Linked DNA regions of Homo sapiens: all the other regions are linked to region 1. Evidence: fine-mapped expression QTL. A gene starts in region 1. Each other region holds a variant in brackets. All regions are shown on one strand. Distances are between the middles of the regions. Region 1 holds the start of LINC01497 (long intergenic non-protein coding RNA 1497). Region 2 has its middle 24 kb from the start of LINC01497. Region 3 overlaps LINC01497 (long intergenic non-protein coding RNA 1497).

What was found. PIP is the estimated chance that this variant, and not a neighbour inherited with it, causes the effect. A credible set is the group of variants that fine-mapping cannot tell apart.
Region 2: its variant is the best candidate, but not a certain one, in a credible set for the expression of LINC01497 in thyroid (GTEx, PIP 0.86).
Region 3: its variant is the best candidate, but not a certain one, in a credible set for the expression of LINC01497 in subcutaneous fat (FUSION, PIP 0.82).

What each region holds. Positions count from the first base shown.
Region 1 is chr17:69,959,322-69,963,571 of GRCh38, reverse strand. It overlaps LINC01497 (long intergenic non-protein coding RNA 1497), which reads right to left and starts at 1,865. Exons shown (of 5, transcript NR_110875.1): 1 at 1,735-1,865.
Region 2 is chr17:69,935,380-69,939,629 of GRCh38, reverse strand. No RefSeq gene overlaps it. Among named protein-coding and RNA genes, the nearest start is that of LINC01497, 24 kb to the left of the region's middle. The variant C/T (reference allele first, on the strand shown) is at 2,360.
Region 3 is chr17:69,965,361-69,969,610 of GRCh38, reverse strand. All of the region lies in intron 2 of LINC01497 (long intergenic non-protein coding RNA 1497), which reads right to left. Among named protein-coding and RNA genes, the nearest start is that of LINC01497, 5.8 kb to the right of the region's middle. The variant TTG/G (reference allele first, on the strand shown) is at 1,936.

The sequences.
Region 1 (4,250 bases):
AAGCTACAACAGAGATGGTTTATCTGAAAACAAAAATTACTTAACCACTCTAGCTTGTTTTCCTTTCTCCAAGATGAAAGGCATTAGAGTTATACTAACTGGCCTGGTAGATCTCTGTCTGTTCTAAGCTGCTGTAAAGCAGATGAGTCTATATTTCTCTAATGGCTCCCACGCAAATTAGTTTATTAGCAAATATAAATTTTTACATGTTTGACTTTTTCCCACTCTAATTGTTCTTATGACTGATATCCAACTAAGAAGAAATGTGACAATAGTGGGTAGTGACAGAATGACCATTTAGGTATTAAAATTCTTTCTTCACTTAATTGTCAACTGGTTAGGAGAAGTGGGATAACTTTCTCTTCTGACGGAGGGAAAAAATGACCAAGGTATTGTAAAGAAAGTTTAATCAGCAGACATCAGACTTGGTTGGAATCATACACATGGTAGTAACAGTCAAGCAAAGATGGAGGAAAGATAATAGACAGCATCTGGGAAATGGTACTGAAAAAGAAGTGGGACACAAAATCTCCATTAGCAGAGAGACAACAGTAGTCTTTTTGTGTGGTTTACTGTTATAAAATTCTGAATAGGAATTCTGTTTCACAGCTGTTAAAAGAGAATTGAAATACAACTGTGTCCAATAATTGAAAAGCAGCTGTTCATTCGCCATGTCTAAAAACAATTGTATAGGAGAAATTGGCTTGGCAGTACAGCAAAAAAAAAAAAAAAAAAAGTGTAATTATTTTTAATTGCCAAAGTGGGGAAGCAATCTGACAGTGGAATAGGACATTGTATGACATCATGAAATCTGCTTTTCTGAGAGTTGAAAAATGGTTAACATTTTCTCTGCCTGATGTGCTATCCGAAGGCAGGAAGGAGTCCCAGTTCATCCCTTATAGGCCCTTAGAGAGAGCATTGTGATGCCAGTTTCCTTTTTTTGTCTATTTTTCCTCCATATATGTACACATATTGTGCACATAACTGATATGTTTTCTTAAGACTTCCCTTTACAGTAACTATTTCCCACTCTGCTGCAGACTAACAAAAACAGAAAACTAAAGGGAAATCAGTGTGAGTCCTGAAAGTTGTGTCCTGCAGTAGGGATTCTGCATAAAACACAAAGAGAGGACACAAAATACGCCACTTTTCAAGTCACATTTACAAAAGGCTTCTCTTTTATCATAATTCACTCGCCAAAAATATAATTGGACAGTCCTTTAGCATTCTGCAGTATTTCTCAGCACCAGCAAAGAGACAGTAAGGAATTTTTCACCAAGAGCCATGAGTAAAGAGAGCTTGTAGCCTTCTACAAGGATCTGGTTGCTCTGAATGGTCAAGTAATCGTGGGAAGTTTATTGTCAATGCCCGGGTAGCAACTCTTTCAACTATGTGATGATCCGCTTTTTTGCTTGCTTTCTATTAAAAAACTGTATTTGATTCTGTGCAAATTCATAAACCAAACACAAAATTCAGGGGTTAAAGAAAACAGTTCTGTAAACAGATGAGACAGACATGCTAATACATTGGAAACATGCTATTTAAATTCAGACTAGTTAAACAGGATGCCCTTTTGTCACTGACCAAATTGTTAAATTGGTGCCTTGGCAAGAGCCTTTTGTACTCTGAAGATTCCCGGGATCCAAACCTCTGTGGTATTAAAACAAACAGAGTAAATATTTTCCTTGAAGTTTACATCCAAGATCTAAATATTTCCAAGCATGTCAAACTCACTTTTCTCCACCGCTCCCTGCAGGGTCCGTGTAGACTTCGGCTGCCAAAGAACCCAGTTGAACTTGCCTTGGGAGGGGCTCCATCCCTGAAGACAAGCAAAGCTCAGAGCCAGAAGCAGGGTGTCTTGCAGCTGTGCTGCTCTGCTTGGCAGAAGGAACTCACGCAGCAGCAGGTGTGCTATCTGCTGACTTCAACACACAGAGACGGGGAAGGCTCTGTCCTTGCTGCTTGCTCCCTAAGCTTGAATATCTGCCATTCCCTTTTACCTATTTGCAGAGAAGTGCCAAGAACCTACCCCGGAAAACCTGCATTTCTCTTCATTAGCTTTAAGTGTGCAAGTCAGCTTTCTAGCTACATAACTTCTAGCTACATAACTTAAGCTAGTTGCAACTGCAAAATAAAGTGATTCCTCTGCAGAATCTAGCAGAGAATATTAACAAACTCTGTTTCTTCTCTCTCTCCCTTGTTTCATATTGTTTTCCATCCAACATGCAGCTGAAGTTCTCTTAGAAAGAGACTACAAAGAACCACAATTGAGTACCACATCAGTATTTTTTTTGGACCTTGTATCTTGGGGACTTACTCTGAAAGTGTCCCAGCATAATCGCGAAGACAATGCTCTGCTCTTTCTTTTTTTTTTTTTTTGGTAGTTACTGACAGTAAATTTTCAAACTGCCATCTCAAATTCAGTGTAATTGAACTCAACCAGAAATAATGAATATAACTGTGGGTATCAATACCTTTGCCTTTAAACTCAGTGAGGTACTTCAAAGTACCTCATCCCACCTCTAAGAAATGCACTTACATTTACCTGGAGTTACCTAATATAAATGAGCCCAGTGCTGCACTGGCCAGGCCTTCCTTCACTGAAGAACTTGTTGCTCTTCAGCTGTTGGCAGATGGCCATAAGCTGGCTGCCCTTCCAAGGATTGCCTCTGTTACAGAGAGCAGCCTTGCCCAAGGACACATCCCTTTGCAGGGAGCCCACATCCAAAAACTGATCAAGGAGGGAGTGTAAGGGCCTGTTCATTGCAAATCAACCTGAGAAAATGCTGAAGGGTCATTCTAGCTCTAGAAATCTCTATGAGATTCCCTGAAGCTGTGATGGGTCTCCGTGGAAGCTCAACTTCTTTCTCTGCCCTGTCTGCTTCCTTCCCCTAACTCGAGAGGTGTTGAATCCAAGGATGCACCTTAATTAACATAACGAGCTCTTAATTTCATCTCAGATTCGGCTTCCCAGGAACCCTAATCTTTGCCACATAGGCTCCTACAAAGCCCATTTTGGGGGGAGTCATGTCTGCATTTGATGCAGGCATCCAACCAGTCAAGTATTTGATTAAATAGGTACAATGTATAAATTTATATCCATAGGAAAATGAGGAAGGAATATTTACTTCTATCTTGGTAGAATATATAGTCAAGTTAGAGAGTTAGCATAAATATATGAAAACGTAACTCATTATATAACAAATGATAAGTATCCAATGGTTACATGGCATTGGGACTTATCAGAAGGGAAGATTGGTTTTAGGACAAACTAGTTGCTGGTTCTTTCAGGAGCAGTAAGTTTATTGTAACCCATTATTATCTGCAGGCTGTTCTTCTATGAAAGTCATCCCATCAGGACATACAAGAGTCTTCACCCTAGAAATGAGATTGATTCTGAGTAGCCTTCCTGCTGCTCTGTACCTCATGGTGAAACTGTCAGACAATTCACAATGGCAGTAGGTAAAAAACATACTTCCATAAATACTTTTTCCATGAGATCTGCTATCGTTGACCCTCTTCTTCCTGGGTTGCTTAGGTTCCCAGGGACTCTCCACTTTCCCCCTTCAAACTCCAAAGCATTGACCCATAATGAAGGTGCCTTGCCCCTCTTCTGGCTGAGCTGGTTTGCAGGGTTGGCCCTGCCAATCCAAATCCCCAAAGCTGGGTCTTGCTCTCACCTGTCTTGACTTTGCCTTTCTTGACATCTTCATTGTTTCCATTTCTACTTCTAAGTTCTCATCTCCATTTTGCCCCTTCTAGATTCTATCAACCTGCTGTGATCTCCCATCTCCTATGTAGAACTAACAGAATTTGCTCTGCCTTTTTACAAAATCACAGTCCAACATGGAGGCCTTGGGCAAATCATTTAATCTCATTCATCTTCAGTAGTCTCATTTACAAAATGAGGATACTAATTCCTACCTCCTGTAGATGAGAATGATAATGATTAATGAACTGACTTGAAAGCAGGAGTCTCCTGGGAAGAAGTAAAAACAAAACATAAACATAAAATCCTTGCCAAAACCATTACCTAGATTTACTGTATACCAAGCACTGTGTAAAGTGTTATATCATAATATATAACCCTCCAGTAGAAATTCCAAGGAACTGTGACAAAAAGTTGTGTCACTTGGGAATTAAAATGTGATTTATCTTTGGTTACTCTGACTCTATTCCAGGTGTAATCTGAAACAACACCCTGCCCATTCTTGCACAAGATCTCTTTCCTTTCTTTTTCATTCTCAATC
Region 2 (4,250 bases), 24 kb after region 1:
AGGAATTCAAGAGAAGCCTGGGCATGGTGGTGTATACCTATAGTCCCTGCTTCTCAGGAGGCTGAGGTGAGAGAATCGCTTTGGCCCAGGAGATTTAGACTGCAGTGAGCCATAATCACACCACTGCACTCCAGCCTGAGCAGCAGAGAAAGACCCTGTCTCAAACAGAAAAAAAGAAAAAAGCACATGTATATAGTGCCCAAGCAAGTACCAAATTCTGTGCTAATCAGGGGATTCAACAGCAAATCTTATAGCGGAAAACAATCTTGAAAGTTATTGTAATTACTTACTAAGACAAGCCTGCTTTAATGCACATAGTGATTTATTCAATTGTTTAAATTTGACTTATTAGATTTTTAAAATATGTGACTTAACTCTACACCTTTGATATTTTATATAAAGTCAATGAATCAGAAAATAATAGTTCCTAAAATTTGTCCGGAATTTATGATGCTCTTACTTAATGGTCCATTAAATAATTACCTACTCTGTTCTCTAGCAGAGATTTCTATGGTAACAACCCTGCTCAGCAATTATATAGCTTATTCTTAAACACTCCCAATGTTGAAAAGTACATTTGCTTCCAAATCATCATCATGCAATTTTTGCAGGACTCAATGGGGCATGGAATCATTTAGGATTCTAATTAGAATAATATTTACATTCCTTTATCAATCCATATTCCAGGGCAATCTATAATTGTTAAATTATAATTGCTGATCGATATTTGTTTACCTATAATTGTTAAATGATTGCGATGTTCATCTCTTGCACCAGTCCTCGCCTCTGCCAAGTAGAATAAGCATCCAACTACTCATCTCTCCACTGTAGCTAGCAAAGTTCAATATGGGTAGGACTGCTAGAGGTTTTACCCTCTTCCCCAAAAAACCTTCAGTTTGAAAAAACCATCACAAATACTTTATGCCCAAATAATTATTCATTTCTCATTGACTCACATCTGCTTTCCGTAGTTGAGCTTTTTATTGAGTTTTATACTCTTGTATTCAACTGTTCAATGCACAATTTTGTGATTTTTATGAGAATCTCAGCATTATCTTTCCTACCCTATAACCCATTCTTCCTCATTCATTTTTATTTCAATCAATGGAACTAATGTTCCCTGAGCTGGAAACCAGATACCCATTGTAAGGCAGCCTTGTCCCTCAAGGGAACATTGAATCATAGTCCTGGTTATGCTACCTCCTAACTGCTTAACTATTTTTCAACTTCATCTTCATTCTTTTGCTCCAAGCTTGAGTTTGAGGACTACCACCCAACTGATCTCTTTGCCTCTGGCCTTGTTGACCTCAAATTGTCTTCCACACTCTTCAATAGCCACATCTAAGGAATGACCTTGATCATAACCTTTCCCTATCACCTACTATAGGATAAAACCAAGCTCCTTAGCATGACATAATAATTGCTTTCAGGTATTCCCCCTATGTATATTCCATTCATGTTTATGCCACTTCGTGTGCTACTTCCTGCCTTGAATTTATATCCAAATACCCAACAAATTTCAGTCTTTCCCATTCCTTGACACAAGCACACATATACATCTCACATATTTATTTGCAATATTTTTTCCTTTGCTTATGTCACTTTTAACTACAGTACTTTCTCACTTCTTTACTCTTTCTCTCTTTTTTGAGACAGGGTCTTGCTCTGTTGTCCAGGCTGAGTGCAGTGGCACAATCATGGCTCACTGCAGCCTCAATCTCCTGGGCTCAAGCAATCCTCTGGCCTCAACCTTCTGAGTAACTGGGACTACCGGCATGCACCACCACATTGCTTTTTTGTTGTTGTTTGTTTGTTTGTTTGTTTTTCATAGAGATGGGATCTTGCAATGTTGCCCAGATTGATCTCAAACTCCTGAGCTGCAGGGATCATCCTCACCTTCAGCTCATGCCTGTAATCCCTCCAAAGCACCGGGATTATAGGCATGAGTCACAACTTCTGGCCACTTTACTCTTATTAATCCTCTTTCCAGTTTTAATTCAAGTGCCATTTCCTCTAGGAAGCCTTCCTTGATTGTTCTAAGTTAAGTTAGGTAGCCCCTCTGTAGCATTTTGATATTTGACATTTATGCCTCTGCCACCTCCCTTTTTAGATTAAATGTACTTCTCAAGAATAAGGATGTTTCTTTTTTTTTTTTTTTCCTTGAGACACAGTCTTGCTCTGTCAGCCAGGCTACAGTGCAATGGTGCAATCATGGCTCACTGCAACCTCAAACTCCTGGGATCAAGCGATCATCCTGCCTCAGTTTTCTGAATAGCTGGTACTCTAGGTATAAGCCACCATGCCTACTAGACTCATTTTTTAAAAATATTTTTGTAGAGATGGGATATCACTATGTAGC[C/T]CATGCTGGAAGAATGAGATTATTTCTGATTTAATCTTTATCGTCTCCGAGCCTACCATGGTGCTTAGAGTAAAGACTCAGCAGATTTTTGTTATTGAGTGAAACAAGTTCTGCAACTCTTGATTATTTCTGGGGTAGTCATCCTTCTTGCCCAACCAGATTCTAACCAACCTGGTCTCTTATATTCCCAGGATTTACCTGGCCTGCCAGCCCCAGAGTGCTGGATACTGGAGGGGTCCTTTTCTGTATTCCAGCTTATGATCTTCTCTCTTTTCCATATCTCTAGAGTCTGGAAATTTCTGAAGATCTGTGCTTTGTTTTTGACAGAATTTCCCTCATGATCTCAGTTCATAACTGTCCCTCCAGTGCCATACACCATGGTTAGATGCTCTTTGTTTTCAACAGCTGCCCCAGTACTAGAGCTTCTGAGCCTTGCTGAGTTTTGTCTTCTTTTGTTCCTTGCCCTCTCTTCCCAATGCCATCAGAACTGCAGTCATTTTCCTGCCATCCCAGTAGTTTCCTGCTAAAGTCTATAGCTTGATTCTCTGCTCCTCTAGAATTGCCACGTGTATTAGTCCATTTTCACACTGCCGATAAAGACATCCCCGAGACTTGGTATGCCTTCCACATGGCTGGGGAGGCCTCACAATCATGGCAGAAGATGAAAGTCACGTCTCACATGGTGGCAGATGAGAGAAGAGAGCTTGTGCAGGGAAACTCCCCTTTATAAAACCATCAGATCTTGCGAGACTTATTCACTATCATGGGAATGGCATGGGAAAGACCCCCCCCGCCCCCCACCACGATTCATTTACCTCCCACCAGGTTCCTCTCACAACACATGGAAATTGTGGGAGTTACAATTCAAGATGAGATTTGGGTGGGACAAAACCAAACCATATCACCACGTGACTGTCACCACACTGCCACACATAGAGCTAATCCTGGATGCCATGCCTACTTAGGCACTCTTAGCTAAGAGTGAAAAACCACATCTTCTGTACCTGTCATCAACCAAACTTTTCCTAAAGTCGTGATAGCTTTTGGAGGCCTCTATCTTTTCTAACTTCCCACAGAAAACCTTCAGTATTGCCAAACAAATCTGCCTCAACCATAAATTACACTTAACATTATCTATATAACCCTGGCTAGATCAGCATGGGTAGGCACTTGAAACATAAATTGGTTTTACACCTGGATTTGCTCTGAGAGTATGGGCAGCTTTTTTTTTTTTTTTTTTTTTTTTTTGCAATCTGCTTGTATTCTACCTTACCAAGTTGCAGGGGTGTAAAACTTCTGTCACTTTTACTGACTAGTTTATCTGAGTGGTAATTAGGCTTCCTGTGGAAGTAGTTTCTCTGGTTTAGAGTCTGGGTGAAAGATGAATTTCCAACATTAATTAATCATCTGAACATGCTTGTTATAATATTATGAGCATTGTTAACAACCAGCCCCTATGGTAGGAAAAAATAACACCTTTTAGGACTAATCTATTTCTACCACAAGATATATCTTAAAAGGTGTATTGAAAATGTATTACTTATTTCCAAAATACCTGCAAAGAAATAACTTAATGTTTAATTCACATGTGAATAGGACTATTTCTTAGTATGAGATTACTCCCTCCTGATTCCAGACAATTTAGTTGTTGGTTAATAGTCTCTTTTTACTAGATCTTCAGTATTTCACCCTTATTAAAGAAAGAAATACCTAACATACATAATGAAAAGTTATGTGCTCTAGCAGCTTGTTTTTGTCCATTCCTCATTTCATATCCACCTGTAGCATGTGTTCTTTTGGGTAACTATGATCAACATTCTCTGATCGCTTTTGGTGAAACAGACTCTCACTAGGGAGACCAACTTGCTCCACACACAAGTTTTCATAGCTC
Region 3 (4,250 bases), 6.0 kb before region 1:
CCACCCTGGTTTCTCTTATCTACCCAACATCACCAAGACGGGGTCAAGAAATAACATCTTGAGTAAGGGAAGATGAAAGAATAAAGTGGGAAAATAATGAAGTATCTACTTTCCTTACTGTAATTTTCCAAGTCCCACATCAGGGGTCCAGGGGAGAAGCTTAAAAGAGGATGAGACAATAAAAGATTTTGTGGTTTGGTTTTGTTTTGTTTCTTAATTTTGACTAGGCTTTTGTACATCAGCTCTACTGGTAATCAGCTCTACTGATTAATTTATCAGAAGTTTTTGTCGGGGGGCAAGGATGGAAAATTCAACACAGAATTTAACAGGCTGTTGCAGAAGAAAAATACAATCATTTCACAATTTCATCCACTAAATTCAGCTTATTCAATCAACAAATACACACGTTTTCAAGTTGCATCCTAAAACAGTTTTACCAATTTATAACATCATCATCAGTGAAGGATAATCAGGCCGATGATACTCTTGCTAGCTTTAAACATTCTCTTTCTGTGTTTACCATAATTTAATATGTGAAATAACATCTTAACTTATGATACTTTCTTATTATTAGCATAATTAAACAGTTTCCATTAGCATATCTGCTATTTTTATTTGTTCATTTATACATTTACTATAACATCGACCAATAAATTATTGTTAATTATGCTAATTATTTTCTTATAAATTTGCATGAGGCATTAAGAGATGAACTCAATCCCCTATGTAATGTAACTATCACTGTAATATGTGGTTTGCATTTCAACAGAAAATAAGTTTTTACATTAGAAATTTTTTAATGTATTGAAATTTCAACTGTGAATTTTTTCTTTAATTTCAACTCTTAGGAAAGAAATGTCTATTTGTTTCTCTATTCTTTTGTCATGAGATTTCTAATGTTTAAATGTTTGATTTATTTTCCATCTAAAGTTTATTTGTATAAAGCTCAGAATCCGATCGGCATGAGTTGAGTATAACAAATTGGCTGGAAAAAGCCTGTTGTTTGTAGGATATTTCACTTTTCATCAATATTCATATTCTATTAATATTTTAAAGCCCAATTATTCTCACTCTCTAGCAAAGGCTGAAGTGACTTTTAACAATAGATATTCTTTCCAAAAAAGAAAAAAAATCCAAACAATTTCTCCCTTTGTAAGTATAAAACTGCCTAAGCTCAGCCTCTCTTTTTCTGCCACATCCAGCCTCTTCCTCCCACCCCCACCACCATTAGATTTTACACACCATCCATTGTCAGGGACGCAAACTCCTCTACAGTTTGTTAATGTCCAAGAAAGGCCATCACCTCTGAATCATTTTTTCCCCACACATAAATCCTTGAGCCAACAAAGAAAAGTGGTATTTTTCCATTTCCATAATTCCTGTTATTTTAAGTCTATCCCTTAACCAAAGTGGCTTTTTGTTTTTTTTTCCTTGATAACTCACAGGTTCAAATGTAAAAATTTATTATTACAAGGAACAATTATGAGGTTCAAAGCATACTGTGTGCATTCCATGCTCCTAGCTTCTGGTACTGATATACGGAATAAAATACTTGTGGTTGTCTACTTGCATGAAGTGGATGGGATCCAACCACTGGTGGTGAGAGGCTTAATGAATGTCTGCCTTCGTCAGACCCAACAGGGATCTAGCATCATGGGAGGTTGCCCAAGTGCCATACTGCAGGCATCTCAAAAACAAACTTTTGACCATTTAACTTATTCTTTCCAGTTACTCTTCAACGTCAACAATAACAACCACCAAAGAGGAAAAAATGGCTTTGCTTCTTTTCTTACTTTAAATATTGTTCTGGATTTTAAGATTTCAAGATATCTTCCCCAAAACATTGAATTAGACAAACCACTGACCTTTTTGAACACCTTTGGGTTTTGCTTCTTCAGGGCAGCATGTTCAGCACTTTTTTTTTTTTTTTTTTTT[TTG/G]AGACAAAGTCTCACTCTTGTTTCCCAGGCTGGAGTACAATGGCGCAATCTTGGCTCACTGCAACCTCCACCTCCCAGGTTCAAGCGATTCTTCTGCCTCAGCCTCTCCCAGGTAGCTGGGATTACAGGCGCCTGCCACCATGCCTGGCTAATTTTTGTATTTTTTAGTAGAGACAGGATTTCACCATGTTGGCCAGGCTGGTCTTGAACTCCTGACCTCAGGTCACCACCCGCCTGACCTCAGGTCACCGCCCGCCTCGGCTTCCCAAAGTGCTGAGATTACAGACATAAGCCACCGCGTCCAGCCATGTTCAGCATTTTGATAACTCCCTGCTCATAAAGTCTTCCTTATTTGATGAGATACTTCATTTACATAGTAAAACCAAACAAAAACAAAAACAAACCACAGCATTCTTAATAGTTACTATTTTCTTGCTGTCTCTGTTTTCTTTTGTTTTTAAATAAGACTAGACATAGTAGTTCCCTCTTCTGTGCTCCTATATAATGTTTATAACTGCATAATAGAACAAAAAAATGTGTTTTAGTTACTTGTGTGTATGTTTGCCTCTTCTGGAATACTGAGAGCTTTTTGAGGTTACAGATATATCCTGTGCTTTTTCTTTGCATAGCACATAACATAAAGTCCAATACATAATAGGTAGTCAATAATGAGCTTAAGTAAATGAATTGCCTCTGATTTGTGTATGATAGTTGGAATGCCTCAAGATTTTTAAATCGTCTGCACATTGATATCATACTATCAACAGATCTTTTGCTGTTAAATGTTCAGTAACTATCAATAATAGTTCATAATGCTCTAAGCAATACCGTCTAACAATATAGCTGAATTTGGCATACCCAGATACTTAGTTTTGTACTTTTTGGTGTGACAGAGACTGCACATATGCACTAAAATCCATTGCCATTTCCCACTGGGCACACACACACACACACACACACACACACACAAATACATTTTCTATCACACTTTGCAATTAAATATGGCCATATGACTTAATTGTGACCAACAGAATGTGGGCAGAAAAGATGTTAATCAATTTCAGGCCCATTTTATCACAATATCCCACAAGTGATCCTTGTTGTTTTTTTCCATTTGTCCCTGAAAAGGGAAGGATCCCAGAACCTATAATGCAGCCTTAGGATAGAGATCAGATTAAGGAAATAAGTATTCACAAATATTATTTCAGATAGCCTCATGGAGGCTGATAGATGAGGTTGGAACAATGAAGGTTCAGGTCATGTTGTTTCATGGCAAAACATATGGTAAAACCACTTCATACATTAAATAGAAAGGCACAACACACCTCATGAGCCTATAAGCCTGTAGTTTTTGGACGTGAGGACAAGAGATTGATATGAGAGTAACAGTGCCTATTTGCTACTATTGGCCTTTCTTAGCAATGTATTACAAGAAAGAGATGAGCACAGACAAAAACAGACTTATTTTGAAGCAGAAATTGAAATGGATATGTATCCAGAGATCAATAACTTTTAGAGTTAATAAACCTGAGTGCTTCTGCATCCTAATTAAGATAAATTGAAAAAGGCTCTGAATGACAACAATCAAATAAAATTATTGTTAAAAAACAGACAATTTAATATAAGGATTAGACTAAGGAAACAGTATTCAAAAATATTATTTCAGATAGCTTCAGGGAGGTTGGGAGTGGCTTAGAATGGTGTATATGAGGAAGCAAAAAATAAATCAGTCATGAGAATTATCACATTGAGAAAACTTCAAATGTAGTTATTGGCACATGTAATTGACTAGAAACAAGACAATTTCAATGTCTGTTAGTTTGGGGAAAATTGTTTCCCTAAGGATTCTATGAGCATGGACTGAAAGTATTGACTTCTTAAGCTTTAAGATTAGTGCTGGGTCCCCCAGCTTTTATCAGCACCAAACATAATCTCCAATCCCACTTCCTGAAGGTCATGGGAAAGATAGACAAAGAAGAATCTCTCAGAGGCTGGAATCAGTAACCATGGAGAACAGTGAAGAAAGGAGATTCTAGGGAGCATAATTTAGGAATAAACGAAAGATTTTTTCCCAGCCAAATAATAGGACCCTTAATATGTGCCTAACATGATTTCAAAATTGCTATGGTTCAGTAACAGCTGCATGCCTCTCATTTTTTCCTTTACCAAACAGGTGTCTAAAATGTTTTCCCGTATCTATGTATCTTCCCTGCATGGTATATGTATGCATGTGTGTGTTTGTTTGCATGTGTGTGTGTGTGTGTGTGTGTGTGTATAAATATATATCATTTGTAGGCTCAAAGAAGCCACTTC